Linked DNA regions of Homo sapiens. The protein of the gene in region 1 interacts with the protein of each later gene in a biochemical or structural test. Each region holds a gene or a part of one and is shown on either strand. Other genes may lie near its edges. The genes, in order: PRKCG, RANBP10, SCN3A and ARHGEF25.

Region 1 (7,199 bases):
CCGGCTTTTTTTTTTTTTTTTTTTTGAGATGAAGTTATGAAGTTATGCTCTGTCACCCAGGCTGGAGTGCAGTGGTGTGATCTCAGCTCACTGCAACCTCCGCCTCCCCGGTTCAAGCGATTCTCCTGCCTCAGCCTCCCGAATAGCTGGGATTACAGGCGCATGCCACCACGCCCGGCTAATTTGTGTAATTTTGTTAGAGATGAGGTTTCACCATGTTGGCCAGGCTGGTCTCAAACTCCTGACCTCAAGTGATCCACCTGCCTCAGCCTCCCAAAGTGCTGGGATTACAGGTGTGAGCCACCGCGCCCAGCTGATCCTGCCCTCTTGAAAAATGCAGCACAGAAGTCCAGTACACTTACATCAGAGAAACACGTACAACACAGGAAATAAGCTTCCATCCAACTGAATACTCCAGGGAGAGCCCTGCCCAGTTTAAAGTATTCAGAAGATAGTCCGGACATGTTCAGTGTTGGCAGGGGACAGGCCACACCCACTCAGAGTACACTAGAAATCGTCTGCCCCTTCTCAGAAGGATCCAGGGTCAGGTCCTACTTGGAATTCCTACGAGCTGGTCCCACTCTCCTGGAACATTCACCCACAGGTGCTGCCCACCTTACCTATTTAGAGACCCAGCTGGGCCCACCTGGCAGGCTCAGTGCCAAGCTCACCTGTGCTGGAGGCTGGAGGAACGACTGGCTGTGTAAGAAGGCCACAACTCATGACAAGGTCTGAGGGTCAGGCCTCACCCGTGGTGAATACTGGACCATCAGCTACACCCTCTAAGGGATCTCAAAGCGTGACCAGAGCAGCAGGGTTGGGGTTACCTCCGGGGCTATGTAGTCCGGGGTCCCGCAGAAGGTGCGGGTTGTCGTCCCGGGGAAGACGTTCTCCTTACACATGCCAAAGTCAGTGATCTTGATGTGTCCCTCAGCATCCAGCATCACATTGTCCAGCTTCAGGTCCCTGGACGATGCAGGGGTGTGGGGCAGGAATTGCAAGAAGTGTTGAGTTCAGCAGTCTAGAGCCACATATTCAAATCCCTTCCCTTCCAGGGGCGTGATTTCCTCCACGGAAATTCCTGGGGCTGCTCACCTGTAGATGATGCCCTGATTGTGAAGGAAGAAGAGGCCGATAGCGATTTCTGCCGCGTAGAACCTGGAGGACGGGGTGGGTGGGGACGTCAGAAGGTCAGTGGCTGGATCCTGCCCCCTTCCACCACCCCGACCATTCTCTGTTGGCCGAGACTCACGCTGCATGGGGCTCCTTAAACTTGCCCAGCTGTTGAATGTGGTACATCAAGTCTCCCCCGGTGACGTACTCCATCACGAAATACAGGCGGTCCTGCGGAGAAGTGCATGGGCTTAGAGGCGGGATCCATCTACCCAGAGTAGGAGAATTTCTTTCCTGATCACTCAGGACAGACGTGGAAGGTTCCAGATGCACCCAACCAGAAATTCAGAGCACCTAGCCACATCCCTGGGAGGGCCCTAAGGTGCTAATCCTGCTACCTCAGAATCTCCACCCGCCAGACCACCGCCAACTATCAGACCACGTGTTCTGGCCCCGCCTTCTCAGAATTGAAGACTGAAGCCCACCATTCGCTCGAAATCCGGGAACACCAAAATCTCTTTCCACAGCCACTCACACACAGATGCAATTCTGGCTTCCTACTAAGAATCAAAGTTGCAGCTGGGCGTGGTGGCTCACGCCTGTAATCCCAGCACTTTGGGAGGCCGAAGCGGGTGGATCACCTGAGGTCAGGAGTTCCAGACCAGCCTGGCCAACGTGGCGAAACCCGGTCTCTACTAAAAATACAAAAATCAGCTGAGTGTGGTGGCGGGAGCCTGTAATCCCAGCTACTCAGGAGGCTGAGACGGGAGAATTGCTTAAACCCGGGAGGCGGAGGTTGCAGTGAGCCGAGATCGCGCCATTGCACTCCAGCCTGGGGGACAAGAGCTAACTCCTTCTCAAAAAAAAAAAAAGGAATCAAAGTTGCTCATACATATATTTTAATCCAGGTGGCTGGCCACTCTCATTCGGAGCCCCTGGAAGTAAAGTCACGCCCTCTTAAAATCTTGCAGGTTCTGACTCTCTGCCCCTAAGTCGCAATCCTAAGGAAATAATGTCCTGTTTCTGATGTGTCCTTCAGTCAGAATCCAAAAGTGATGACCCCGTCACTCGGAGCCCAATTCTGGGCAGGCCCACTAGGAAGGCACCCTCCTCCACTGTGCCCCTTTGCTGAAAATTCCAGAGCACTGGCTACAGCCACTCAAGACCAAGCTCCCCAGGGAAACAGGCATCTGGCCACTCCCCCCAAGAGCCCATCCACCTGGCCACGCCCCCAAGGAACTCAACCGCTTCACGACACCTCCGCAGGACCCATTCACCTGGCCAGGCCATGCCACCGAGGAACTCACCGCCTGGCCACGCCCCCGAGGAGCTCATCCGCCCGACCACGCCCTCCGAAGAATCTACCTGCCTGGATACGCTCATTCATAATCTCGTCTGCCTGGCCTCGCCCCCAAGGAGCCAATCTGCCTGGCCACGCCTATTAATGATCCCATCGCCTGACAAAGCCCGCCCCTCTAAACCACCCCCCCAAAGATTTCATCCGCCTGACCACGCCCCGCGAAGAGCCCCTCTGCCTGGCCACGCCCCCGATGAGTCCCTCCACCTGGCCACGCCCCCGAGGAGCCCCTCCACCCGGCCTCGCCTCCGTTGAGCCCCTCCGCCTGGCCACGCCCCCCGATGAGTCCCTTCGCCTGGCCACGCCCCCCAAGGACCCCCCCCCGGCCACGCCCCCTGAGGAGACAATCCGCCTGGCCTCGCCCACTCAGAGAGCACAAAGTTCTCTTGCCTCGCCCTAAACTCAGAATCCCAACGCAGATGTCCAGAACTGGATAAGGCAGGGCCCGGAGGACAGCCTCCGCCCCCTCCATCCTTACCGGGGTCTGGAAGGTGGAGTGGAGCTGGGTGAGGAAGTGGGGCCGGCCGCCAGGACCCCGGCCCCCCAGCGCCAGCACACGTTTCTCCACCAGCGTGCAGTCCACATCGTCGTCCTGGACGATCACGTCCTTTTTCAAGATCTTGATGGCGTAGAGCTCATCAGAGCCCCTGCGCTCGGCCAGCATCACCTATGCGCACAGTTCCAAAAGGGCCAGTCCATGTTGGGAACCCAGTGGTACAGGACCTGCCCCCTCCCTAAGGGACGCAGGGAAACGGGATCCCAGGCCCTTCCTCCATCTCTTAAGGGACTGACAGCCCTGACTTGCCGCCCGTCCCCTCAAGGAGAGTGTCCACATCTGTAAACCTCTCCTCTCCAGGAACCTGAACGGCCCAACCTAACCATATTTGAAGATGCAGGAGCCCAGTCTCTTCCCACCCCCACTTCCTCCCTAAGAACCAGAAATCTGACCTTCCCACAGACATCCTCCCTTTCCCCCAGAACCCCAGGAATCCAACCTTCCCAAAACTGCCTTTTCCTAGAACCATGAGGAAGCTGAAGTCGGAGATGTGCAGGCGTCCTGGACTCGCCCCGAAGAAGCAGCGCTTGGGGTCGGTGGGACTAGGGGAAGGGGAGGGGATGGGAGAGGAAGAGGGGCCCATCCGCACCCGCTGTGGAAAGGAGAAAGAAAGAGCCAGAGGCAGTTAGACCTTACACAGCGATAAGGAAATGCTCCCAAGAGACACAGCACCCAAGAAAGGAAAGGATGAGAATCGCTAGACAGAGGAAAATGGCCACCCTCCTACCCTGTCCTTGGCTTAATTTTCTCTGACTCCCCATAGCCTGGAGGGTTTATTTATTATTCAACAAACACTTAGCTCTTTTTTTCTTCTTTTTTTTTTTTAGATAGCTTATCATATGCTGTTTCCAGAAAACCCTGCTATCGTTTCCATTTTACAGAAGAGGAGACTAGCACAGAGACGTTAAGTAACTTGCCCCAAGTCACACAGCAGGTAAAGGACAGAGCCAGAAATGAAACCCAAGCAGTCCAGCTCTAGAATCTGGTTGCTCTTAGCCTCTAAGCCGGAATTCCCTAGAGGGTTTGGTAAAACAGATTGCTGGGTCCCACTGCCAGATTTTCTAACTCTATAAATCTGGGGTGGGACCTGAGAATCGTTATGTGTAAAAAGCTTCTGGGTGACATGGGTGCTGCCAGTCCAGGGAGCACACCTGGCTTTCAGCTAGGGTCCCTTCTCTACCTTTTCCTGCCTCGGCCCCCCAGGGAGGGGGCCCAAGACTAAGCTGCTGTCACAGCTTCCACACTTGTCCCTCTACATGGACGGCTGCCCTTTCTAATGCATTCTCTACTCAGCAGGCACAGGAGCCAATTTAAAAATAAATAAACCAGGTCATGTCTCCCCTATGCTTGTAAACCCTTTAACTGCTCCCTCTGTGTTAAGATTTTATTCCACATGACTTGCAGAGCCAGGCTGAGACTGACACTGCAGGTTGTTCTTCTCTCTCCCAGGCTCCATGGTCCAGCCACCCTGGCCTGACACTCATTGTCCTCCCTCCCACCTCAGGGCCTCTGGATGTGCCGTTAGGTCTTCCTGTAAAGCTCTCCCCTCCCCTTCCCTCCTAGTTGTCTCCCAAACACCCTTTAGACCTTGACTCAAGCATCACTTCATAGAGGCCTCGCCTGACTTTTTAAACTGGGTCAGATGCCTCTCTTACCACCCCTTGGTCACCATGGACAGCACCTTCCTGGCACTTTTATTCTTAGTAATTTACATCTATCTGTGTGACTATCTGCTTTCTGCCTGTGAGCTCCCTAAGGCAGGGGTCTGCTTTGTTCGCTAAGACACAGTAACACTGCCTACCTCATTGAGGCTACATAAATATTTGTTGAGGGCTGGGTGCGGTGGCTCATGCCTGTAATCCCAGCACTTTGGGAGGCCGAGGTGGGCAGATCACCTGAGGTCAGGAGTTCAAGACCAGCCTGGCCAACATGGCGAAGCCCCATCTCTACTAGCAATATAAAAATTAGTAGGACATGGTGGCACATGCCTGTAGTCCCAGCTACTTGGGAGGCCAAGGCAGGAGAATCGCTTGAACCCGGGAGGCAGAGGTTGCAGTGAGCTGAGATCGCTCCACTGCATTCCAGCCTGGGCGACAGAGCGAGACTGTGTCTCAAATAGATAAATACATAATAATAATAATAATAATAATAATAATAATAATAATAATAATAATCAGGGCTGTTTCTGTTTGCTGTGTTGTTAGCCCCGTACCTAGCTCAAGGCTTGGCACAGAGTTGGTGTTCATTGGTAATATTAAGTGGTGCCTGCTGAACTGTGGGAGAGTGCTGTGAGCCACAACAGGCACACACACCACCCTACACTCCCTGCCTCTAGGCCTTTGCCCACCATCTGCCCTGCTGGGTTTCTTGGGTTTGTACGGGAGGATCATCCCTGCTGATCTCAAAAGACTCTACCTCTTTGGCTCAGAATGTCCTCCCGCTGGTACCCTTGTCTCCTGCAGAGCCCATTCTCTCTTTTTTTTTTTTTTCTGAGATAGAGTCTCGCTCTGTCACCCAGGCTGTAGTGCAGTGGCACGATCTCGGCTCATTGCAAGCTCCACCTCCCAGGTTCATGCCATTCTCCTGCCTCAGCCTCCTGAGTACCTGGGACTACAGGCACCCACCACCACGCCCAGCTAATTTTTTTGTATTTTTAGTAGAGACGGGGATTCACCGTGTTAGCCAGGATGGTCTCGATCTCCTGACCTCGTGATCCACCCGCCTTGGCCTCCCAAAGTGCTGGGATGACAGGCGTGAGCCACTGCGCCCGGCCGCAGAGCCCATTCTCAAACTTAACTTTGCAAAAGGATCACCTGAGGAATTAATTTAGTAGGCAGACATTTGAGGCATCAGAGAGATCGTCACTGAGTAGGTCTGCAGAAAGGCTGGGGAATGTGCTTTTAAAAGCAAGCACTCTAGGAATTCTGATGCAGGTGAACCCCCACACACAACATTAAAAACTCTGGTGAAAGTTTCTGTAAGAGTCCAGTAAAGACTATAACATGTTGTTGCTGTTGTTGAATCTTGAAGATTCTTGTCTTCTTTTTTTTTTTTTTTTTTTTTGAGACAGAGTCTCCCTCTGTCATCCAGGCTGGAGTGCAGTGGAGCGATCTGGGCTCACTGCAGCCTCTACTTCCCGGAATCCAGCAATTCTCCTGCCTCAGCCTTCCGAGTAGCTGGGATTACAGGCGCCTCCACCATGCCCAGCTGATTTTTGTATTTTTTAGTAGAGATGGGGTTTTGCCACGCTGGCCAGGCTGGTCTCAAACTCCTGACCTCAGGTGATCCGCCCGCCTTACTAGGATCACAGACATGAGGCATCGTGCCCAGTCTATCATATGCTTATATATTTTGTTTAATGTCTTCCTCCCGGTGTAAATCCCATAAGGAAAGGAACTTTTTTGTTTGTTTGTTTGTTCTTTCCCTGCTTTCTCTATATCCCCAGTGAGTAGAGCCACGCCTGGCACACAAAGATGCTCTGTAAAGTATTTTTTGAAAGGGTAAATGAGGGAGAGAGCATTACTTCCTCCTGCCTGAAAATCTGGTCTCTCCTTTGGGAAATCCCGCCCTTCTACCAGGTCTCACCTCTCTAGGAAGCTTTCTCTGACTCAGGCTGTGCCAGGGACGCCCCAGTGCCTGAGGCTGTCTCCATTACAGCAGCATTGCTCCTCGTTGTGAATGTCTGGGTTTGTAACTTTGTCCTCCACTAGAAGAAGAGCTCCACCAGGGAATGGCCTGATTCTATTCCCAGAACAGGGCCTGGCTTATGACACCCTAGAAAATGGGTATTCGTCTGGGCGTGGTCGCTCACGCCTCTAATCTCAGCGCTTTGGGAGGCCAAGGCGGGTGGATCACTTGAGGTCAGGAGTTCGAGACCAGCCTGGCCAACATGTCGAAACCCCATCTCTACTAAAAATACAAAAATTAGCCAGGTGTGGTGGTGCGCTCCTGTAATCCCAACTACTCAGGAGGCTGAGGCAGGAGAATCACTTGAATCTGGGAGGCAGAGGTTGCAGTGAGCTGAGACTGCATCACTGCACTCCAACCTGGGTGACAAAAGGAGATTCTGTCTCAAAAAAAAAAAGAAAGAAAGAAAGAAAGAAAAAGAAGGATATTCAGTGAGTGAATGAATGAATGGAGAGATTAAGATGATCATGCTTGATAGATTTTTTA
Region 2 (7,199 bases), on another chromosome or scaffold:
CGGGCAGATCACCTGAGATCAGCAGTTTGAGACCAGCCTGGCCAACATGGCGAAACCCCATCTCTACTAGAAATACAAAAATTAGCCAGGCATGGTGGTGCATGCCTGTAACCTCAGCTCTCAGGAGGCTGAGGCGGGAGAATTGCTTGAACTCAGGGGGCGGAGGTTGGAGTGAGCCGAGGTCATGCTGCTGCACTCCAGCCTGGGTGACACAGCGAGACTCCGTCTCAAAATAAAAAACGAGCCACCACACCCGGCCTGCTGTGTATTTTTTAAACGTAGACTTTATCAGGTATTAAAAAAATCCAACATATTCTTTTTTTTTTTTTTTTTGAGATGGAGTCTCACTCTGTCTCCCAGGCTGGAGTGCAGTGGCACGATCTCGGCTCACTATAACCTCCGCCTCCCAGGTTCAACCAATTCTCCTGCCTCAGCCTCCCGAAGAGCTGAGACTACAGGTGTGTGCCACCATGGCCAGCTAATTTTTTTGTATTTTTAGTAGAGACAGGGTTTCACCGTGTTAGCCAGGATGGTCTTGATCTCCTGACCTCATGATCCACCTGCCTCAGCCTCCCAAAGTGCTGGGATTACAGGCTTGAGCCACTGGGCCCAGCCTAAAAAAAATCCTACATATTCTTTAACAGTTAAAAAAAAAAATTTCAGGCCACTATCTTGCCACTGCACTCCAGCCTAGGTGACAAGAGTGAGACCCTGCCTCAAATTAAAAAAAAAAAAAAACAAAAAAAAAAAACAGCAACAAAAAAAGGCCAAGTACAGTGGCTCACACCTGTAATCCCAGTACTCCGGGAGGCCAAGACAGGCAGATCACTTAAGCCCAGGAAGATCACCCTGGGCAAGTGGTGAAATTCCATTTCTACTTAAAAAAAAAAAAATTAGCTGAGCATGATGGCATGTGCCTGTAGTCCCAGCTACTCAGGAGGCTGAGGTGGGAGAATCTCTTGAGCAGGAGGGGAGGTTGCAGAGCCATGATTGCAATACTGCACTCCAGCCTGGGCAACAGAGTGAGACCCCGCCTCAAAAAAATAAATAGGCTGGGTGCGGTGGTCCACACCTATAATCCCAGCACTTTGGGAGGCTGAGGTAGGAGGATGACCTAAGGTCGGGAGTTCAAGACCAGCCTGACCAACATGGAGAAACCCTGTCTTTACTAAAAATACAAAATTAGCCAGGCATGGTGGTGCACGCCTGTAATCCCAGCTACTCAGGAGGCTGAGGCAGGAGAATCGCTTGAACCCGGGAGGCGGAAGTTATGGTGAGCCAAGATCGTGCCATTGTACTCCAGCCTGGGCAACAAGAGTGAAACTCCGTCTCAAAATAAACAAACAAATAAAATAATTTTTTAAAAATAAAGGTTTTCGGCCGGGCGCGGTGGCTCACACCTGTAATCCCAGCACTTTGGGAGGCCGAGGCGGGTGGATCACGAGGTCAGGAGATCGAGACCACGGTGAAACCCCATCTCTACTAAAAATACAAAAAATTAGCCAGGTGCGGTGGCGGGCACCTGTAGTCCCAGCTACTCAGGAGGCTGAGGCAGGAGAGTGGCGTGAACCCGGAAAGTGGAGCTTGCAGTGAGCTGAGATCGCACCACTGCACTCCAGCCTGGGCGACAGAGTGAGACTCCGTCTCAAAAATAAACAAACAAACAAACAAACAAATGTTTTCTATACGTAAAATAAAAATATTTTGATTTTTTTTTTTTTTTTTTGGAGACAGAGCCTTACTCTGTTGCCCAGGCTGGAGTGCAGTGGCACAGTCTCAGCTCACTGCAACCTCCACCTCCCGCGTTCAAGTGATTCTCCTGACTCAGCCTCCTGAGTAGCTGGGATTACAGGCGCCTGCCACCATGCCCAGCTAATATTTTTTACTTTTAGTAGAGACAGGGTTTCGCCATGTCGGCCAGGCTGGTTTCAAACTCCTGACCTTGTGATCCGCCTGCCTCGGCCTCCCAAAGCGCTGGGATTACAGGTGTGAGCCACAGCACACAGCCTATTTTGATTTTTATAAAAGTAAATATAACTACTGACAAACTACTGGTGCAAGTTGTTATAAAAACAGGGCATTCCATTTTTTTAAAAAGTCCATGCCAATTTCAGATACATGGCTTTATAAACTGGGTTAGAATCAGTTCTACTCAGCAATCCAACCCCTCTGTTTCTTTCCTCTTGGTTCAGCTCTGCCTTGGGACTCTCCTTTAGAAGAAATAAGCTGAGCCCTCAACCATCTGGGCCTCTATCCACTTATCTTCCAACCACCTCCACCCTGAGGGCTAGTAGATTTCATCTCATGATGAAACTCTGACCAGTAAATTATAGCTGCCTGATGTGCTGTGCATTGAGAAAAATTCTGGGCTCTGTCTGGACAAGAACAAGTGCTACTGTCAATCAGTAATGTTGGTCATAGAAGCTGAGGGTATTGTGGGGTATTGGGGCCTTCACACTTGCCACCCCTGACCTAAACTAAACTCCCCTGAAACCCCAAGCATCTCTAATTCCAAGAGTTAAGTAACAAGAAATGGCATAAGAGGGGTGCCAAGGGCTTCCCCAGTCCCCTCCCAACTTCCCTATATAGTACAGAGCATCTTGTTCTGGCCCCTTCATGACAGAAGGGCTAGGCTCTGTTCCACCACCAAGTCACAACACCAACGATCCTAGAATTACAAAGACATTTTATATGGATTTTGAACAGAATGGAGAGGCAGAGGAACATCTTTGCATTTAGACATAATTATCCATCCCTCTTCCACTGATGAGTCCCTTCTTTCCAACTTGACCCGACCACACAAGACCCACTCTGGAGCCCTTTATTCCTTCCCAATGGTCCCATAATAGGAATGGCACACAGTGCCTGCCACATGGGGCTGCTAGGTTCATCCTCCTGTGCTCTGGCCTGATGAGCTTCTGCTTCTCTTCTAACAAGGAATCTCCCTTACACCATGACCCATACAGGGAAAAGACCAAAAGTTCCAGAGAACAAAAACACCATCAAGGCAGAAAGGCAGGAGGTGAAGTGAATTCTAGGAATTTCTCTAAAAGCTAATCCTTGACCAAGAAGGCCCCAGCTATAAAGAAGGCAACGACGCTCCCCACTCTCAGCTCACAGTTGGAGCCTGGGTAGCAACATACAGTGAGGAGGGAGGCCCTACCAGAAAAGTGGCCACAGGCCAGGTGTGGTGGCTCATGCCTGTAATCCCAGCACTTTGGGAGGCTGAGGCAGGAGGATTGATTGAGCGTAGGAGTTCCAGACCAGCCTAGGAAATATAGCAAGACCCTGTCTCTACAAAAAATTTAAAAATTAGCCAGGGCTGGGGATGGTGGCTCACACCCGTAGTCCCAGCACTTTGGGAGGCTGAGGTGGGCAGATCATTTGAGGTCAGGAGTTCAAAACCAGCCTGGCCAACATGGCAAAACCTCGTCTCTACTAAAAATACCAAAATTAGCCAGGTGTCATGGCACACGCCTGTAATCCCAGCTACTCAGGAGGCTGAGGCATGAGAATCACTTGAACCCTGGGAGGCGGAGGTTGCAGTGAGCCGAGATCACTCCACTGGACTCCAACCTGGGTGACAGAGCAACACTCTGTCTCAAAAAATAAATTAAATAAATAAAATAAAAATTAGCCAGGCATGATGGCATGCACCTGTAGTCCCAGCTACTCAAGAGTCTCAGGTAGGAAGATTGCTTGAACTCAGGAGGTCGAGGCTGCAGTGAGCCATGATTGTGCCACTGCACTCCAGCCTGAGTGACAGAGAGAGACCCTCTCTCAAAAAAAAAAAAAAAAAAAAAAGCAAAGAACAGTGGCCACCATCTAGACTCCAGTTCTCTTACCCCGTGTTCCAGAACCCAAACATCCTACCCTGTGTTCCAGAACCCAAACATTCCATGTCTCCACAAATAGCACAATGTGTTACCTGAGTAGAAGTGCAGCCCAAAGCTCAGCATCTGCCTGTAAGACCATCAACTCCGGGGGGCAGTAAGGGAAAATGGGGCACAACCACGGCCTGTACCTACCTTGGGCAAGGACAGCACCTTCTTATCAGGGCGGGCAGGACAACGCCTTCCCCAGATGACATATGAGCACCAAAGTTCTCAACAGCACTGTACAATGCATGTAGACTGGAACTTGGTGAGGGGATCCAGGGTGAGAAGCCAGCCACAGCTGTCTCTCAGCTGGAAGGGCCTAAGCTTAGATGGTCCTCCACACCAGGAATGTGGCAGGTGAGATCTTAATCAAGATATCTTAATTAACAGTGGCTCTCTAGGTCTCCATGGAAAATCACTTTGGCTGATTCTGGCTCACCAGAGGAGATGCTTGGGTATAAAACATGGGGCATTACTGTCTTTCAGATGGGAGCTGGCAAAACCAAAATACCAGAACTCCAGCACAAGCAGAGTCCTCTCACCTCTGAGAAGCCTCCTGGCTACCAGTCTTTCACACCCCATCCCTTCATCTCTTCATACCAAAGGAACAGCCAAGAGAAAAAAAGACAACCGCTATGAGAAAACCATGCTAGAGCCAAAGACCTAAAGTCACTGGCCCACCCTGGACAAGGGCTCTTGGCCAGAGAAGCCTGGCTGAACCAGACTGGCAGAGTCTCTTCTTTTCTTCACTCTCAAAAGCATGGGTAGATCCACAGCCCCCCACACTGCTACTGCCCTCAAGATACAGCCCACGCTCCCTGGCCACAGCATACAAGGTATTTTCTTTTTTATTTTTTTAAGACAGAGTCTCACTCTGTCACCCAGGCTGGAGAGCAGTGGCGTGATCTCGGCTCACTGCAACCTTCACCTCCCAGGTTCGAGTGATTCTCCTGCCTCAGCCTCCCAAGTAGCTGGGATTACAGGCATGCACCACCACTATTATTAGCGCCTGGCTAATTTTTGTATTTTTAGGAGAGATGGGGTTTCGCCATGTTGGCCAGGCTGTTCTCGAACTCCTGAACTCAAGTGACCTGCCCGCCTCAGTCTCCTAAAGTACTGGGATTACAGGCATGAGCCAGGCCACACACAAGGTATTTTCAGTCTGGCCCTACCGACCTCATGTTCTGCGCTCCACATCTCTTTTTTTTTTTTTTTTTTTTGAGACAGAGTCTCGCTCTGTTGCCCAGGCTGGAGTGCAGTGGCGCGATCTCGGCTCACTGCAAGCTCGGCCTCCCGGGTTCACGCCATTCTCCTGCCTCAGCCTCCCGAGTAGCTGGGACTACAGGCGCCCGCCACCATGCCTGGCTAATTTTTTGTATTTTTAGTAGAGACGGGGTTTCACCATGTTAGCCACGATGGTCTCGATCTCCTTACCTCGTGATCCGCCCGCCTTGGCCTCCCAAAGTGCCGGGAATACAGGTGTGAGCCACTGCGCCCGGCCAGCTCCATGTCTTTTTATGCACTGTTTCTTCTGCCTGAAGCATCTGCTTCTCACTTTGTTCACCTAGAACACTCTAACTCCTCTTTCCAGAGCCCACATCACCTCTTATATGATTCTATGATGTTTTCCTCAAACTCTGAGGTACAGTCCATCCTCCAGGCCACCCCTGGATATGACACATACGGTGGCCTGACCCTTCGACACCACCGGTGGGGCCTCATGCCTGTGCTCCTGGGGCCCAGGCTGGGACAAAACAATGGATGTGATGGCTCACACCTGTAATCCTAGCACTTTGGGAGGCTGAGGAGGGCAGATCATGAGGTCAAGAGATCTAGAACATCCTGGCCAACATGGTGAAACACCGTCTCTACTAAAAATACAAAAACTAGCTGGGCATGGTGGTGCACGCCTGTAGTCCCAGCTACTCGGGAGGGTGAGGCAGGGGAATCACTTGAACCCAGGAGGCGGAGGTTTGCAGTGAGCCAAGATTGTGCCACTGCACTCCAGCCTGGCAACAGAGCGAGACTCTGTTTCAAAAACAACAACAACAACAACAACCAAAAAAAAAAAACAATGGGTACTGCGCCCTGGTGTCTGGAATGAATGAATGAGTGCACTGCTGCCTGGCCAAAGGAAGTCAGCTGCAGGAGCAAGGGAAGGCTGGCTGTGGTCAGAGACCCCTGCTCTGGGCCTGGGCCCAGACACTGGCTACAGAGGAAAATGCCCCCACCCCTCTCCATGCCTTCCAGTGCTCTAGCCCAGGCCTACTACTCTTGGGTAAAGCAACCATCACATGTCAGGAGGCCTCCGCCGCTGGGATGATGTTACAGTCTATTTTGAGGGTCACACTGGAGCATCTGTCAGCCTAGCCAGCCACACCCTCCATGTGTCATCACTAAGAGCCAGGGACACCCACAGGTCCATGAACTCTGCCTGCAGACATTGCTCCTCCCCAGGGACCCTCAGCTTCAGGCCCTCCTTCGCTTCCTAGAAAGACAGACCTGGATGCCCCTTATCTCCTGGCACCACTGGCAGTGCTCTGATGTCTCCTCACCCCACCAGACCCGCTCCCCGAGTTCACAGCTCTGGTGACTCGGCAAAATGCAGTTGAAGCCCATCAGTCTGTGCCAAGCTCTTAGCTCAAACACAGCCCCTCCTACTCCACAGAGCTCTCTTATACTTGAGGAGTGCCCAGAAAGCCTAGCACCCAGAAGTCAAGCTAGTTACCCATCAGACTCATAGGTCTAACAGGTCTCGCCTACTGGGGAACTCCTACTCATTCCTCCCAACTGTTCCCAGGCTCTGCCTCCTCTTGCAGAAAGACTTTCAGTCCACTCTCTACTGAATGGGCCACAGGCTTCCTGAGGACAAAGCTGATCTGTGCTGGCTTTACATCTGTTCTCCCTATACCTAGTATAGGGCCTGGAACATAGTAGGTATATATAAATATTCTGTGAAATCTTGACATGAAACTTTCCTTATTAGACTAGCTTAGTGTGTTCTTCTCCAAAAGATATTGTCAAAACAAAGGACGTTCTGGAGAACAATGACACTAACAACTGGGTTTATAAATACCTTTTACAAAGGAGGTGTACTCAAATCTACAGAAAAGCAAGTTTACAGATTAAATGGAACAGTAAGTTGATCAAGCCCGGCCCAGAGCATGCCACAATTCTCTGGCCCTACACAGCACCATGCACCTTTCAGCTCTGTCCCCTAACATTGCAATCTGGTAGGAATCCAACAGAACATTCCTTCACTCTACCCAGGGAAGAAATGCAACAGCTACAATGGGGAAAGGCAGCAGCAGCATGGACATG
Region 3 (7,199 bases), on another chromosome or scaffold:
AATTAGAGTTGAATTCTTAGTTTGTCAGAATGAGCAACATAAATTAGAGTTGAACTCACTTAGCAGACTTTAAATGGAATTCAGAGAAAAAATATCACTACTTAATTTTGTATGTATTTTACCTTTTTCAAAATATTTTCCAACTTATTATTATACTATCTTTCAGCAACTCTAAAATACCTGAAAATAGTCAGGAAGCTATGAGTTGTAAGATTGTCAGCTACCTATTATAGGGATTTCAGATCAAGTTTTGTTGATACACTTATTTAAAAAAAAGAGTTCCAAAATATGCTCACGAAATCAGACATTGTTGGTTTGGTTCCCACTGTGTCAACATTATACCCTCAAGCCAAAACCTGTCTTTGATAACTCCATCTGTGCTAGACTTACTTTGTACTCATATGTATTAAACGTCTATAAATAAATAATAGTAAAGAATTTTAATCCTCTTTTCCACAACACAGGATTGAAGAATTAATAACATTACTACTATGATAGAAACTTAAGAATACTAATCATGCAGTAGGAACAATTTCCTTCCTTCCTTGCTTCCTTCCTTCTTTCCTTCCCTCCTTCCCTTTCTTCTTTCTTTCTTCCCTTCCTTCCTTTCTTTCTCTTTTTCTTTTCTTTCTCTTTCTTTATTTCTTCCTTCTTTTCTTTCTTTCTTTCCTTCTTTTTTTCTCTTTCCCTTTTTTCTTTATTTCCTTCTTTCTTTCTCTTTCCCTTTCTTTCCCCTTCCTTCCTCCCTCCCTCCCTCCCTCCCTTCGTTCCTTCCTTCCTTCATTCCTTCCGTCCTTCCTCCCTCTTCTCCTTTCCCTCCCTTCCTCCCTCCCTCCCTTCCTTCCTTCTTTTTTCTCTTTCCTAGTAACACAACAGTAAGAGTAGGTTTATTAACCTACAAAATAACTATAGCCCTCAAGTGAAGCTTTTAAAAGTAGTTCTTAGTATTTTCAAGTTACTCTGGAAGACTATAGATCTGCTCATCCTTGACTGGGCAAAATATAATAAGTACTACTTGTACTTTCCTAATGTGTATAACACTTTCATAAATGAAACACTATCATAGTGAATAAGACTTTCAGAGGTTAACAAAAGTACATAAAGTTTTCACATAAAAATCATAGCAAAACCTAATATAGAGAGTAAGGAGATGACGAAAATAAGTTATTTTTTAAAGAACATAATGTAGTTGAGAGTGTAATGTACTAAATAACATCTCTTTTTTGGAAGGCTACTTTTTTTTGAGATAGGGTCTTGCTTTGTCACTCAGGGTTGAGTAGAATGATGTGATCGTGGCTCACTGCAGCCTCTACCTACTGGGCTTAAGCAATCCTCCCACCTCAGCCTCCTTTGTAGCTGGGACTACAGGCATGTGCCACCATGCCCAGTGAATTTTCGTATTTTTTTTTGTAGAGAGGAGATTTTGCCATCTTGCCCAGGCTGGCCTCGAACTCCTGGGCTCAAGTGATCTGCCTCCTTGGCCTCCCAAAGTGCTGGGATTACAGGCATGAGCCACCATGCCCAGCCTAAAAGGCCACATTTTTTAACCACATTTTCAAATGATCAAGAAAATGAATATACTAAAGACTCAGAATGGTTTAATTTCCTGTGAAAAATTGGAATTTTTAGAAATCCATTTCCCAATAAAGAGTATCTTGTGATTTTCCAACATCACTATAGACATATGACTTTCAATATTGCTTTTTGATAATGCATATAAGCACAATGAAAATAGTAAATAACTGTAGTACATGGTTATCATAGGAAATGGAACAAAAAATTTAAAAGCATTCTTACCTCTTTGCTTTCTTCTAGTTCTGACTCACTGCTGAACTCTTCAGTATTTAAGTTTTCAAAGTCAGACTCTCCAACAGCAATTGGCACTGTGACGGTGAGGCTGGGGTTGTTTATGAATGACATATAATCATTTTCATCGATTACGTATTTTTCAACACTGCTTCCAGTACCTACACCACTGGTGGTTCCATTCCCATCTCTAAGATAATTAAGCTCTTTGCTTATTTCAATTCCAGTATTATTGGACATGCAGCTGTCTATCTTATTGCCTTCATGGATTTCTATAACTTTTGGCTTTCTAAAAAAGGCTTTTTGGAAACACTCCCGCATCTTATTTTTCACATAATCAATTCCCTTTTGCATTCTTCCTACTGCAATCTGCAGATTATTCATTTCATTGTCATCATCAGTAGCAGCAAGGTTGTCTGAGCTAAATGAACTCAACAATAAGGCCAGAAAGAGGTTCAGAACCTAAAAGAAAAAAAGAAAAATGTCTATTTTAATATTGAAATATGCATTTAAATAACAGCCTAAAAAGGGAACTCATAGATCTTTGCTAAAATTATTTCAACAAATGTTTATTGAATGCTTACTATATTTCAGATGCCATGTCTAAGTCACACACTCTTTAAAGGACCTAATATCCTGCTCTAAGGGCAAAATGATAAAACAAGCACCTCTTCTTTTTTTCCTATTGGGAGGGACAATAGGAAAGCAGAGCTTCTAAGATTTAAATGGTGTCTACTCAGGTTTGCCAGTGCAAAGACAAAATCCTACCCTCAAGGATTCTGCCAACGAGAGAGAGAGAGAGAGAGAGAGAAAGATACTTTCTTCTTAATCATTTTATCTTACTTCATCTTACCATTTTTTTTCCTAGGGAATTTCTAGCTTCGTGTATATAAAGAATGAACTTATTTATTTAATAGCCTGATGATATGTTCCAAATGATATACTTGAAATACAAATTCCTTTGGCCCAATGGCCACAAACTTTTATAACAGCAGAAATTTCTAAGTGCAAATTATATACGATTTAACACGTTTCCCATCAAATACACTTTGAAATTTATATGTTCAAATAGCTCAACAGATGGAGAGAAATCTAAAAGTATACCAGGGTTTAGGCTAGACCCACATAAGTTACTTTTCTTTTTCTTTCTTTCTTTGTGTGTATGTGTGTGTGTGTGTGTAGAAAGTATGAGGCGATTTTAACTTTCAGAATATCATGGGATATGTGAAAAAGTTACTCAGCCAACTGATAAGTTATGGTTAATGCAGGAATAATTCATTATTTCTGATGTAAAAGAAAATTTATAATAATATTTTTAGCCTGAAATGTAGTTAGTTATTGAGTTTCAGAATATGTTACACTATAGGAAGACATGCAAGGCAAAAGCCCCAGTTTGCTTCCTTACTTCTGTATCAGATTTTTTCAGAATCTAGAGCTCCCTAATTTACTATTCTGGAGAAAAAAATTACATGTTCGTAGGTATCCCAGTAGCATTCTTTTGAACAAGTTTATCTGAAATGTATCCCTCAAAGGAAAGGCCCAATATGATGGCATAAAGAAATGCTTTGCCCACGCATGACTGAGAAATTTAAGCATTAAACATATAAATATATAAACTATGCTTTTGCATTAGTGATTTTAAGTCACAGTTAAAAGTAACTCCTTTGAGTCTGGACAATGTCCATACATATGAATAATTTAAACTGTAATAATTGGTTTTCCTATAGTAATGCAAATTCAGGGAAGAAAACATTTTGTCCTCTTCCAAGTTACTTGGATAATTACAATGCATAGCTAAAATATAATGGTCTACTTCATTGAAATGTGTCTTCAAAATTTGGTACTATGCAACCTATGTCTCTAAGTAAGCAAACTACATGAACTATGAACATGCAAAGAGCAATTTGATTATAGAATAGATAGTTGTCTTTTTAGATTTAGTAGAGGTCATTTTCTTATCAAAACAATATTAGGATACAATTCTTCTTAGTGATAAAAATTTACTTTCTTTGAAGAAGAAAGGAAAATCTAATATTTATGCCCCCAGGCATTCATAAATACATCTGATTTAATCTTTGCATTAAAGATATGATTTCAGTTTTATTATTCCAATGTCATAAAAAATGGGAAACCAGAGCCCAGGAGAAGTTAAATAACTTGCTTATTCTCTGAGTGCTAATAGGGGGATTTCAGTCTAGGCCACTTACTATAAACCAGAGATATGTTTACTACATCTGGCCACGTTCCTAGCTACTGTCTGCTCTTGTTCTAATTTATGAGCATTTGTACTACATACATACCACAAGGTTTCCAATGACCATGACCAACATGAAAACAATAAGGCACATGGTTTGGCCAGCGACCTCCATACAGTCCCACATGGTCTCTATCCACTCTCCACACAGCACGCGGAACACAATCAGGAAGGAGTGGAAGAAGTCGTTCATGTGCCACCGTGGGAGCGTACAGTCATCATTGATCTTGCAGACACATTCTTTGTAGCTCTTACCAAAGAGCTGCATGCCGACCACAGCAAAAATGAAGACGATGATGGCCAACACCAAGGTGAGGTTTCCTAGAGCCCCCACAGAATTGCCAATGATCTTAATTAGCATATTTAGTGTGGGCCAGGATTTTGCCAACTTGAAAACTCTAAGCTGTAATCAAGTGAAAAGATGCTGTTAGTAGTAATCATAATATAATTTTAGACATTATTTTATTAGTATGTGGTATCATAGAACCACACGTGGTAGATGTAAAAACTCAAAATATACTGAACTGATTCAATTTCAAATCCAGAAAAAATAGTGTTAACAATATTAGAATTGTAAATCTGGTCATAATATCATTTAAGTGCAAAAATAAAAATAAAACATTTCAGAAATAATAAATAAAACATTTCTGATTCATCCAAAGATATGCCCATGTAAACAAATGGTATTTTGATTAGAGACTTTTTAAATTAGCAAATAAATGTTATCTTCAGATTCTATTTTAGACAGTAAAAAGAAATATTAAAAGTATAAATCATAGATTTTTATAGGCCAATATAAAAGTAAAATAACCTAAATAATGTGATAAAAATGTACAGGAAAAAAATTGAAAAAATACACATTTTGCTTAATTTTCAATAAATTTTACATATTTCTCAATAAAATTTTGTGATAATTCAAAAAGTTTTTTATACAATTATTTAAGATACTAATAACATCAAATATTTTCCCACATGTTGCTTTAAAACAGTCCCCATTCCTAGAAGTAGGGTTAATAAAAAGCTAAAATTAACTGGGGTCTAAATTTTTATTTGCGTATCTTTACAGACTGTAAGGCCAAAAAAGCTTCATAAACTTAAAACACAGTTTTAGAAAGTACTTGTAGGTTTTCTAATGTGCCCTACATACCTAATCATTATAGAGTATTTTGAATGCTTTCATCATTCTTAGAAAATGGTTTAGCTTTAAAGAGGATGTTTACATGTTTTCTTAGAATGTCACATATTGATGTAAATTTAAAATTAAAATTAATAATTATATAAATATACATTGATTCAATTTCAAAATAAATGTTGTGCCAATGAGCGACAGGGATATATATAAATAGATACCAGTCTGAATGATCGCAGTACAGACAATCCCTCCACATTTGACAGACCAAGCTCCATTAAACTGAGGCTGACAATAATTCCATCAAAGATATTCCAGCCTTCTTGGAAATAGTAATAAGGATCCATGGCAATGATCTTGAGAACCATTTCTGCTGTGAAAATCCCAGTAAAGACCTAAAAAATAGAGATCAGCACTACTTCAAGAGCACTGAAAAACACTGATGCTACACGAATTTATAAAGAAGAACATTAACAGGAATAAAAATATCTAAAATTTAAAGTGAGAGAATGTGACAAATCAATTCAAGTCTTAGTTTTTTTATTTTCATTTTTTATTTTTATTTATTTTTATTTATTTTATTTTATTATTATTATACTTTAAGTTTGAGGGTACATGTGTACAATGTGCAGGTTAGTTACATATGTATACCTGTGCCATGCTGGTGTGCTGCACCCATTAACTCGTCATTTAGCATTAGGTATATCTCCTAATGCTATCCCTCCCCCCTCCCCCGACCCCACAACAGTCCCCAGAGTGTGATGTTCCCCTTCCTGTGTCCATGTGTTCTCATTATTCAATTCCCACTTATGAGTGAGAACATGTGGTGTTTGGTTTTTTGTCTTTGTGATAGTTTACTGAGAATGATGATTTCCAATTTCATCCATGTTCCTCCAAAGGACATGAACTCATCATTTTTTATGGCTGCATAGTATTCCATGGTGTATATGTGCCACATTTTCTTAATCCAGTCTATCATTGTTGGACATTTGGGTTGGTTCCAAGTAATTGCTTCAAAGAGAATAAAATACCTAGGAGTCCAACTTACAAGGGACGTGAAGGACCTCTTCAAGGAGAACTACAAACCACTGCTCAATGAAATAAAAGAGGATACAAACAAATGGAAGAACATTCGATGTTCATGGGTAGGAAGAATCAATATCGTGAAAATGGCCATACTGCCCAAGGTAATTTATAGATTCAATGGCATCCCCATCAAGCTACCAATGACTTTCTTCACAGAATTGGAAAAAACTACTTTAAAGTTCATATGGAACCAAAAAAGAGCCTGCATCGCCCAGTCAATCCTAAGCCAAAAGAACAAAGCTGGAGGCATCACACTACCTGACTTCAAACTATACTACAAGGCTACAGTAACCAAAACAGCATGGTACTTGTACCAAAACAGAGATATAGATCAATGGAACAGAACAGAGCCCTCAGAAATAATGCCACGTATCTACAACTGTCTAATCTTTGACAAATCTGAGAAAAACAAGCAATGGGAAAAGGATTCCCTATTTAATAAATGGTGCTGGGAAAACTGGCTAGCCATATGTAGAAAGCTGAAACTGGATCCCTTCCTTACACCTTATACAAAAATTAATTCAAGATGGATTAAAGACTTAAAAGTTAGACCTAAAGCCATAAAAACCCTAGAAGAAAACCTAGGCATTACCATTCAGGACATAGGCATGGGCAAGGACTTCACGTCTAAAACACCAAAAGCAATGGCGACAAAAGCCAAAATTGACAAATGGGATCTAATTAAACTAAAGAGCTTCTGCACAGCAAAAGATACTACCGTCAGAGTGAACAGGCAACCTACAAAATGGGAGGAAATTTTCGCAACCTACTCATCTGACAAAGGGCTAATATCCAGAATCTACAATGAACTCAAACAAATTTACAAGAAAAAAACAAACAACCCCATCAACAAGTGGGTGAAAGACATGAACAGACACTTCTCAAAAGAAGACATTTATGCAGCCAAAAAACACATGAAAAAAT
Region 4 (7,953 bases), on another chromosome or scaffold:
AGCTTCACCGTTGAGGAAGTCCCGTTGGCTCTCCAAGATCTGAGCCACATGCTTGATCCAGGCCTGACTGATAGCAGGGTCTGCAGCCTGCAGGACATAGCGCTGGATCCCACCCTCTGGCCCTCTGGAGGTCAGTGCAAAGCGGCAAGGGTCACCTTGGAGGTTCCCCTCCAGTCCCAGGCAGCTCACCTGAATTGGCAGATAGGAGACAGCCCCCAGATTCCTCAGGCCCTCCCTGGCTCCTCTGAGACATCCTCTCAGAGGCCTCATGCCCTCTCTCTCTCCAAGCCCTCCCTCGTGGCCTTCTCCCCACCTTAATGCTGTTCTTGTATACATATCCAGGCTGTGTTCCACCTCTCACTCCTCCTCCCAGGGCTTCACTGAAGATGATGATTTGCTCAAAGAGGAAGACGCGCCTCTCTCGACCTCGGGAAGACAGCAGCCCTCCAGCCTCAGGCTCGGTGACCCAGAAAGTGTCCTGGCCCAAGAGCTTCCCCTGAGCAGTCAGTTTGCCCTGAAACCAAAAGGATAGTGGCCTTGGAAAAAGAACAAGAAAAAGGACAATTCTCTGCTCCTCCCTTCCTCGCCTGACATGCCCAACCAACCATGGGGTCAGCCCCAGGAGAAGACAACTCCCCATAAGGACCTCCTGAATGCTAGGGCTGGGGCAGAAGAGCATCGGGCCTCCAGTTTCTTGCCCTATCTCCGTACCTCAAATCCCCGCAATCTCCCCAGCGTCATCATATCGTTGCAGCGCTTGGGCACAAAGCACATGACCTCCACAGCTTGCTGGGACACAGGTGAGGGAGGCGCATTGTTGGGCGAAGAGAGTCATTATTGGGAAAGAGGCCTCCTCGGCCAGTTGCCTCTTCAGACGGTATCTCAACCCCAACCAGCCTCCCCCTAAAAACCAGACAGCTGTAAACCACCCAAGGGGCTGGGGGAACCCATGAGATACTAGGAGGATAAGGAGCACATGGTGTGTCCTGGAAGATCTGGGGTCCTCACCTCTAGGTCTGCAGTATCCATCCCAGCTCTATTGTAATACTTGAGAAAATCCTAAGACAGAGAGAAGAAATGCTCAGGGAGGTCACGAGGACACCCTTAGAAGCTCTCACATCCTCCCCTGAGGACACCAGTGAGGGCCCTCAGGAAGTCTGGGGGAGCCCTAAGAACCCTGGGGAGATGAATGAGGAAACAGCTGTGCCAGCCAGCTGTGCCCCCAGGAAAAAGGGGGTCCTGACCTTGAGCAGCAGCTGGTATTTCATGATCCGCTGCACAGGTTTGATGAGGAGGTCGTTCAGCTGCAGGCGGTGCCCCAGCTGCTGCCGGAGCTCCTGGGGACAGGGACAGGGTGGTTATGCAGCCTGGAAAGCCCCAGTTCTGTCCTCCTTCCCACCAAGACATCTCAGCTACTGACCTCAAAGTAGCTGTCCCCAAACTCTGACACCACATGCTCTGACTTGGGCTTATTCTGACAGTACACCACATACATATGCAGCCGGCGCTCCTAACAGGGGTAATGTTTAAGAGAGAGCAGGGTGGGCAAGGAGGGAGGACGCATCTCCAGAGAATCCCAGCCCATTCCTAAGCCCCGCCCCAGGCCCTGCCCCCTCAAGCCTCACGTGTTTGATGAATAGCTGAGCCAGCCAATCAGGATCTTTCAGACACCGTTGTAGCTCTTGCAAGAAATAGCTGGAGGGGTTGGTAGAGAAGCAGCAGGTCAAATACATTTCACAACCCCCACCTCGCCCACTCCCAGCAGTTTCGAGCTGTCTGCCCTGGTAGTGTGCCCTACAAAACTTCTCCAAACATTCCTTAAGTCGCAATGGGCTGATGTTAGGATACAGGACAACCAGATGAGGGCCCCTCTCCAGCACCTAGCTGTCAGAGTTCCACCACTCACTCTCGGTGCCACTCATAGATTTGCTGGATATTCCCAAACACAATCCTGTCACGGCCTCGAAGACTCTCGGGGACCCCCTGAGCAGCCATGGTGGCCATATAACCCTGTGGGAAAGTTGAGGTTGGGTCATGAGCATGTGGTGGCCCTCTCCCCACCTTAATGGTGCTCCTGTACACAAATCCAGGGTGTGTTCCACCTCCCCCTCCCTGGTGGGAGCCGCCCTGCCCCCAGAGTAGGAAGGTCCAGGAGTGGGGAGGCTTGAGAGGTGGGACAGAGGAGCGCCCAGGCACCTCCTGAAAATAGCCCTGGGCAGATGGAAAAGCAGGCAGGAGGGGCTGGGAAGGGGTAAAGGGAGCTACCTCCACAATCTGCCCCAAGTCGTCCACGTACATTTTCTCTGTTTCTACCAGTTCACTCAGGACATACCTAGGATGAAAGCAGGAGGAGGCCCCCACTTCAGCGTCGGAGCTCATCCTTGGTTCAGCCCGTTCCTCCCTCCTCCCCTTTATCATCATAGCCAACCTTGGAGGAAATTCCATCTAAAATGTGAGGGACAGTCTTCTGGAAGTTGTGCAACTGCAGGGAAGGGCTGTGGACACTTACATACTCCTTTCCAGAGCCTTCTTCTTCTGTTCCTCCTCACTCTCAGGGGCTTGGGACAAAGTCTCCTCTTCAGGTGGCTGGAAGGAAAGAACATCCTAGGGTGAGCAAACGAATGCCCCTTGAGTGAAAGGAGCCTCCCCAGAGCCTGTCCTCACACCTGCGTCTTATCTCCAGGGCCCTCCAACAGTGTGGTCAGCAAGGTCAGTTCCGGCAGCTCCTCTCCTGTGGCTAGAGCTGGCTCCAACATCCAGTTCTGGGGGCCAGAAATCAAGTGTCAGAGGTCGGGGACAGTAGCTGGGTGGCCCCAACTTGCCCTCTCTGCCAGTGTCCTTCATAGATGTCCCACATGCTTTGGTGCCGTTCCCTGCTCACCTCATATGGTCCTGCCTGACCACTGTCTGCCTCAGTTTCCACACTGAGACAATGTTTGGAATGATCCAACCATCTCCTCAGGCCACTGACGGGCCCTGGGGGGCCTGGGGAACAGGGGCCAGAGCTGAGGCCAGAGCTGGGGCCAGAGGGGGCAGCCAGACCGGAGGCAGCAGAAGCCGATATACTCCCCTCACTGCCCGCAATGGAATAGGATTCTAATGGGAGGAAAAAGAGAGGAGGTGATAGACCTTGCCCCAGCTCCAGACTCAGGGTCCCCAGGGAACTCCCAGGGTCTTCTCTTCATGATGCTCAGCCTCTCTCTCCAAGGGCTCACTCTCTTGCCATCCTCATTTGAGTTGGCCAGGATAGAAAATTTCACCAGGGCACCCCTGGGAGAAAGCACAGTAAGGTAAACGCCTGGCTCTCCAGGCCTGGAACCCCCAGTTACATGTGGAGGTTCCCCATATCCTGAGCATAGCATAGATATGGGGGTGGGGGCAGCCATCTGGGCAGACATTGGAAGCTGGGGGTGGCCATCTGCTCTCCTACAACCCTCCCTCTTTCAATGGGTACAGACCATTCTCTGGGAAGAGGGGAGGATGAGCTGGGTCCATCTGCCACTCCCAGTCCCCTCCTCCACCAATTGCAGTAATCACTATAAAAAGAAAAGACTTCTGCAGCCCACCTCCCCAACACATGCGTAGACCCAATAGAGGAGGCCAGTGAGGAGGGTCCATCAGGGTTATCGTTGGCCTGTGCTCAGCGACAGAGAGCTGTGATTCCTTATAAAGCCCCTTGTAGAACCACCTCATTCTCATTCCTCCATTCTCCTGTCCCTCTTCAGAAGTAGATTCTTAGCAAAAGGTTTGAGGAAAATAATCGGTTCTAGGCCTAAGGGGATTGTGGGTGGGTTTTTCTCAAACCCATTTGACAAAGGGAAAGAGATGAGTTCCCTGCCCCTTCCCCTATTTCCTTAACTTGAACTAACAGAAATTTGGAGGCAGAAGGGACCTTAGGGATCACTTAAGAAACCACTTTCCTGGAAAACACATACAGTCTCCAACCCTAAATCCCAAGGGCCAGGGCAAACAGATGCCCTGAACCCCCAGCCCGCCCCCCACTCAACACTGGACCCTCTCGACCTGGCACTCACCACGTCCCCCCCGGGCGAAGCAGCAGCCGCATTTTGCCAGCACTTTTCGGATCACACGGGGACAGGCACAGCGACCCCCTTTGTGCCCCCCCCGCATGGCGCCCGGGCCCCCCCGCGCCCCCCACCCGGGCCGGCCATGCAGGGGGAATCACGGGGGGCGGGGCGGGGACGGCGCCGGGCGCACACCCCCCCTCCCTCCTACCCCGGTCCAGGCTGTGGGAGGGGGGGAGGGAGGGGACCGGGAGGAGGTGTCCAGGGGTAGGCGGAAGTCTAGTCTTGAGGAGGGCTGGGGGCTCTAGAGAGAGAGAGGCGCGGGGCCCGGCCGCCGGGCTGGGCGGGGAGGGTTTCCGGAACCCTGTCGGTGCGGGGGCCTAGGGTCCAGATGTCCAGTGGAAGGGGGAGGGATGGTAGGGGAGGCTGGGCCGGGATGCGGCAGCCGCTCCAGCTGTCTCCGGCCTCTGGTTAGGGGTGGCTCTAGGCCCGGGCCGGGGAGGAGGCGAGGGCCGACCCCCGAGCCACTGGCGCTGTGCGGGTCCCAGCGGAGCGGAGAGCTGAATAACAGGCCTGGCCGCGGGGCCGCCACGAGGCGGGGCCTCTGCGGCCCAGCTCCGCCCTCTCCATCGCGTTCCCCCTCCTGCCTGCGCCGGGTTCCCGCCCCGATCGCCCCTCCCCCAGACACCACCACGTTCCCACTCCACGTCCCCAGCGCTTTTTCCCCTCCCCAGCCCGTGCTCCCCTGCCCCGGGGTCCCCCTCCCTCTCGCATCCCGGGCTCTGCGGAGCGCTGGGGTCGGGGTTCAGCCTGTCTGCAGGGTCTGCCCAGGTCTCCCCTTGGCCTCTGCGATGAAGGAGGACTCAGTGGATGGGGCCTTGGCCTGTGCGAAGATGTTCTGGGTTTGGGGCTGTCCCCGGCCGAGTGGACAGAGGCCCCCTGGTACGGGGTGCGTGTATGGGGAGTCTTTTGTGGGTGAACACAACCCAGATGCCGCCCTCTCTCAGGACCCTTCTTTCCTCCAGGCCCCGGGACTCCAGCTAAGACTAATCGCCAATTAAGGCGAAGTCCTGGAGCCCGGGCTGGCGAGGGGCCAGGGGTGGGGCGCGGGGACACTCTGCCTGCGAGGGCTCGGGATCGACTGGGATGGGGGACACACATTGGACTCGAAGGCAAGAAGAGTGGAGGTCTCTGCGATTAAATGGGTCTCATGCAAATTAGATGCGAACTTTATGCTAATAAGAATAGAATATTTTTGAATTCGCCACTTGGCGCAGGATAGCAAACTGTGCCCCACCCCACCCCCAGCTTCTTACCGGGCTGCAGAGCCCCGGCGAGGACCTCATGTTCGCGATCCCTTCTGTGATCTCCCTCCGTACGTTCAGACTCTGGCTCGGTACCCACCAACCCTAGAGGGCTTCTCCTTGGGGGCTGCGGGGACAGAACCACTGTAAGGAACCTGCCCTCCTAGGCAGCCCTGACCTCCCCCTTCCCCTTCTCCTACCTGTCAAAACCCACATTGTTATAAAAGGCTCGCCCAGAACGGGGCTATGGCCCTCGTAATAGAATTCATGTATTCCTGCGACTGCCCCGCAGAACTCGTTTTCGGATAAGTTGAGTTGTGGGTGCAGCCCTCCTGAAGGCCCCGAAAGACCCCCGACCCCACCGCGAGCCCCCATTCTTACCCCCTCCTGCCCAGGGAGGGCGCATGCGCGCAGCATGCCCCCCATGACCCCCAGTATCCGGTCAGTGCGGCCAGGGGCGGGGCGGTCCGGGGGCTTCATACTGAACCCCCACCCTGCTCCAAGTTTCAGGGTCGAGGGGGCACTGAAGCTGGGGGGCTTTGAGGCCTGCGCGCGTCCGGGGAGTTGCTGCTGCGGAATCCGCCCCCTGCCCGGCTCCGCCCCCACTCCCACCCCAGCCAAACTTCGCAGAGTGGCTAGGGTTGTTTTCTCTACAACCATAGTTGAACAACAAAAAAACACCCTCTTAATACTAATTCCAACATCGAAGTGACCCAGGGTTTCTCAGTGTTACTACAGAGCCCGCTGGTGCATCCCGTTTCCCCAGGTCCTCAGGAGGCAGAGGGACTGGGAGTGCACGCAGGGATCACCCCATCATCCCCTCTCCCCTTTCCAGCAGGTCCCTCTCCCCACCCCACCCCCACCCAGTCCCTGGAAAAGAACGGGTGTGGCATAAAGAGTTGCATATTTTACTTTATTTTTATTAAATTAAAAGCTACAGTCTGGCAGCGATTCCAGAACAGGGTAAGGAGGTTCCTCACAGGGGTCAGAGAAGAGCGGAGAAAGACAGACTGACGGAGACTGAGACACAGGAGAGAAAGGACAAGGTTAAGGGAGAACTGTATCTGATGAACACACACAGCCGGCTCCATGGCGGGTGACGGGGAGCTCACATCAGCCCAATTTCTCCTCCCCGGCACCCGAAGTTCAGCGGTGGAGCAGTATGTGGGGGCGGTTAGGAATCAAGAGACCCTCCCTTCCCCACCCTAGGTCCTTTCTCGGCTTGGTCGTGGAGCACAGCACATACCAGAAAAAGCCAAGGGCAATGGAGGGGCAGGGAAACCGGGAGTATATGTACACGGGGAGGGGAGAACAGAGCCTTGGAGGTCGGCCTCTGCCAGAAGGGAGTGGCTCACACTGCATTGAAACACTTGGCCAGTGGGGGATGGGGGAAGGGATTGCCCCCTCCCTCTCGGAACTCCCTTCCCAGTCAGACAGGTCCCCTACAGGTGTGGTGTGGGGGGCAGGGGGCAGAGAGGAGAAAGAGGCTTCTGCTGGGTCCTAGTAGAGGCAGACAGCAGGGGCCTTGGCAAAGGCGATGTCCTTCAGTCATCTGTGATACCCTTCGCTCTCAGCTCCTCTTGCACCCGGGTCAGGTAGGTGGGGTCTGGGTACCCAAACCTGGGAGCAAAGAGAAATGAGGGTGAGGGTTGTTAGCTGTTTGAACTTGCTATTATCCCCATGCTCACCCTCATTCTAGGTGGCTCAGACACCTCCCCACCTCCCCTAAGGGAGGACACCTCCAAATCCAAGATAATTTAGCCCAGTTCTGCTTATTTTTGTAGGCTAAGCTGGGCACACCAGGACCAGGTTGAATGTAGGAGAAACTGAGATGGCTGAACAGTTTGGAAGTGGTTCTCTCCAGTTAGGAGGCTCCGTGAGCGAGGGGTTGGTGGGTCCCTCAGTGGAAATGGAACAAAGGGGAGGAGCCAAGGGAAAGGAAATGAAGAGGGGTCGCACAGCTGGGGTCCCCCTGTGCAGCTGGTCTTGTGGTGGATGTCGTTCCAGGTGATGACATTCGGTCTCCCTGTGGTCATGGACGTGCCGATAGTGAAGGTGAGACGCTGGTCAAACGCCTTGCGGAACAGGGTCAGCACCTTGTTGCCCTCAGGGCAGTCCGGGAGGTAGGCCACCCGTGTGGTGCCAGGATACCGAACTCCTGGGTTTGGGTGTTCAGCCTGGGAGGAAGGTGAAGCAGAGTGGGCAGTGAGCAGCCAGGCATCCTAAGGCCCAGATGCCAGAGGAGGGTCATCCAGGCTAGTCTCTGTCTGAGCACCCCCAGCTAATGCGAACGGGGCAGCAACAGGCTGACAGCTTTCCACAGAAGGAGAGATTATACGGCCTCGGCAGCAAGAGCCTGTTTCAGAGCATAATCCTTATGTGTTAAGAGATTTTTTCTGCTGTCTCAATCCCTCAAGTCTCCATTCAGCAACAAATGGATTCTCAGAAGTGATGGAAGTTAGCTGGTCCCTACACTCCAGACAACTCAGCAAAAATGTGAAGACAGAATAATCTATCTTTCAGCCTTCCCTTCACCTGAAAATACTCCTAATGTTTCTGCCACTGTCTAACTTGTTCCATTTTCCATCACTCTTCTGTGCAGCTTCTTCACCCCTCTGCAGCCA

What was found.
Region 2: the proteins of PRKCG (region 1) and RANBP10 form a complex in vitro, tested with the Homo sapiens proteins (one large-scale study listed by BioGRID).
Region 3: the proteins of PRKCG (region 1) and SCN3A form a complex in vitro, tested with the Homo sapiens proteins (one large-scale study listed by BioGRID).
Region 4: the proteins of PRKCG (region 1) and ARHGEF25 form a complex in vitro, tested with the Homo sapiens proteins (one large-scale study listed by BioGRID).

What each region holds. Positions count from the first base shown.
Region 1 is NC_000019.10:53,894,378-53,901,576, reverse strand, and holds part of PRKCG (protein kinase C gamma type), read right to left. Parts: intron 3,619-7,199; coding exon 3,466-3,618; intron 3,138-3,465; coding exon 2,949-3,137; intron 1,345-2,948; coding exon 1,253-1,344; intron 1,159-1,252; coding exon 1,096-1,158; intron 967-1,095; coding exon 828-966; intron 1-827. UniProt on the Homo sapiens protein: Calcium-activated, phospholipid- and diacylglycerol (DAG)-dependent serine/threonine-protein kinase that plays diverse roles in neuronal cells and eye tissues, such as regulation of the neuronal receptors GRIA4/GLUR4 and GRIN1/NMDAR1, modulation of receptors and neuronal functions related to sensitivity to opiates, pain and alcohol, mediation of synaptic function and cell survival after ischemia, and inhibition of gap junction activity after oxidative stress.
Region 2 is NC_000016.10:67,794,208-67,801,406, forward strand, and holds part of RANBP10 (ran-binding protein 10), read right to left. Parts: intron 1-7,199. UniProt on the Homo sapiens protein: May act as an adapter protein to couple membrane receptors to intracellular signaling pathways.
Region 3 is NC_000002.12:165,125,834-165,133,032, forward strand, and holds part of SCN3A (sodium channel protein type 3 subunit alpha), read right to left. Parts: intron 5,585-7,199; coding exon 5,411-5,584; intron 4,464-5,410; coding exon 4,107-4,463; intron 2,269-4,106; coding exon 1,798-2,268; intron 1-1,797. UniProt on the Homo sapiens protein: Pore-forming subunit of Nav1.3, a voltage-gated sodium (Nav) channel that directly mediates the depolarizing phase of action potentials in excitable membranes.
Region 4 is NC_000012.12:57,608,073-57,616,025, reverse strand, and holds the start of ARHGEF25 (rho guanine nucleotide exchange factor 25), read right to left. Parts: upstream 4,592-7,953; 5' UTR 4,132-4,591; coding exon 4,035-4,131; intron 3,271-4,034; exon of another isoform or gene 3,130-3,270; intron 3,097-3,129; coding exon 2,882-3,096; intron 2,763-2,881; coding exon 2,667-2,762; intron 2,587-2,666; coding exon 2,510-2,586; intron 2,333-2,509; coding exon 2,266-2,332; intron 2,011-2,265; coding exon 1,907-2,010; intron 1,696-1,906; coding exon 1,626-1,695; intron 1,511-1,625; coding exon 1,421-1,510; intron 1,338-1,420; coding exon 1,245-1,337; intron 1,060-1,244; coding exon 1,009-1,059; intron 790-1,008; coding exon 712-789; intron 515-711; coding exon 314-514; intron 190-313; coding exon 9-189; intron 1-8. Other genes in the region: probable E3 ubiquitin-protein ligase DTX3, read right to left, coding at 6,874-6,949, 7,289-7,506. UniProt on the Homo sapiens protein: May play a role in actin cytoskeleton reorganization in different tissues since its activation induces formation of actin stress fibers. It works as a guanine nucleotide exchange factor for Rho family of small GTPases.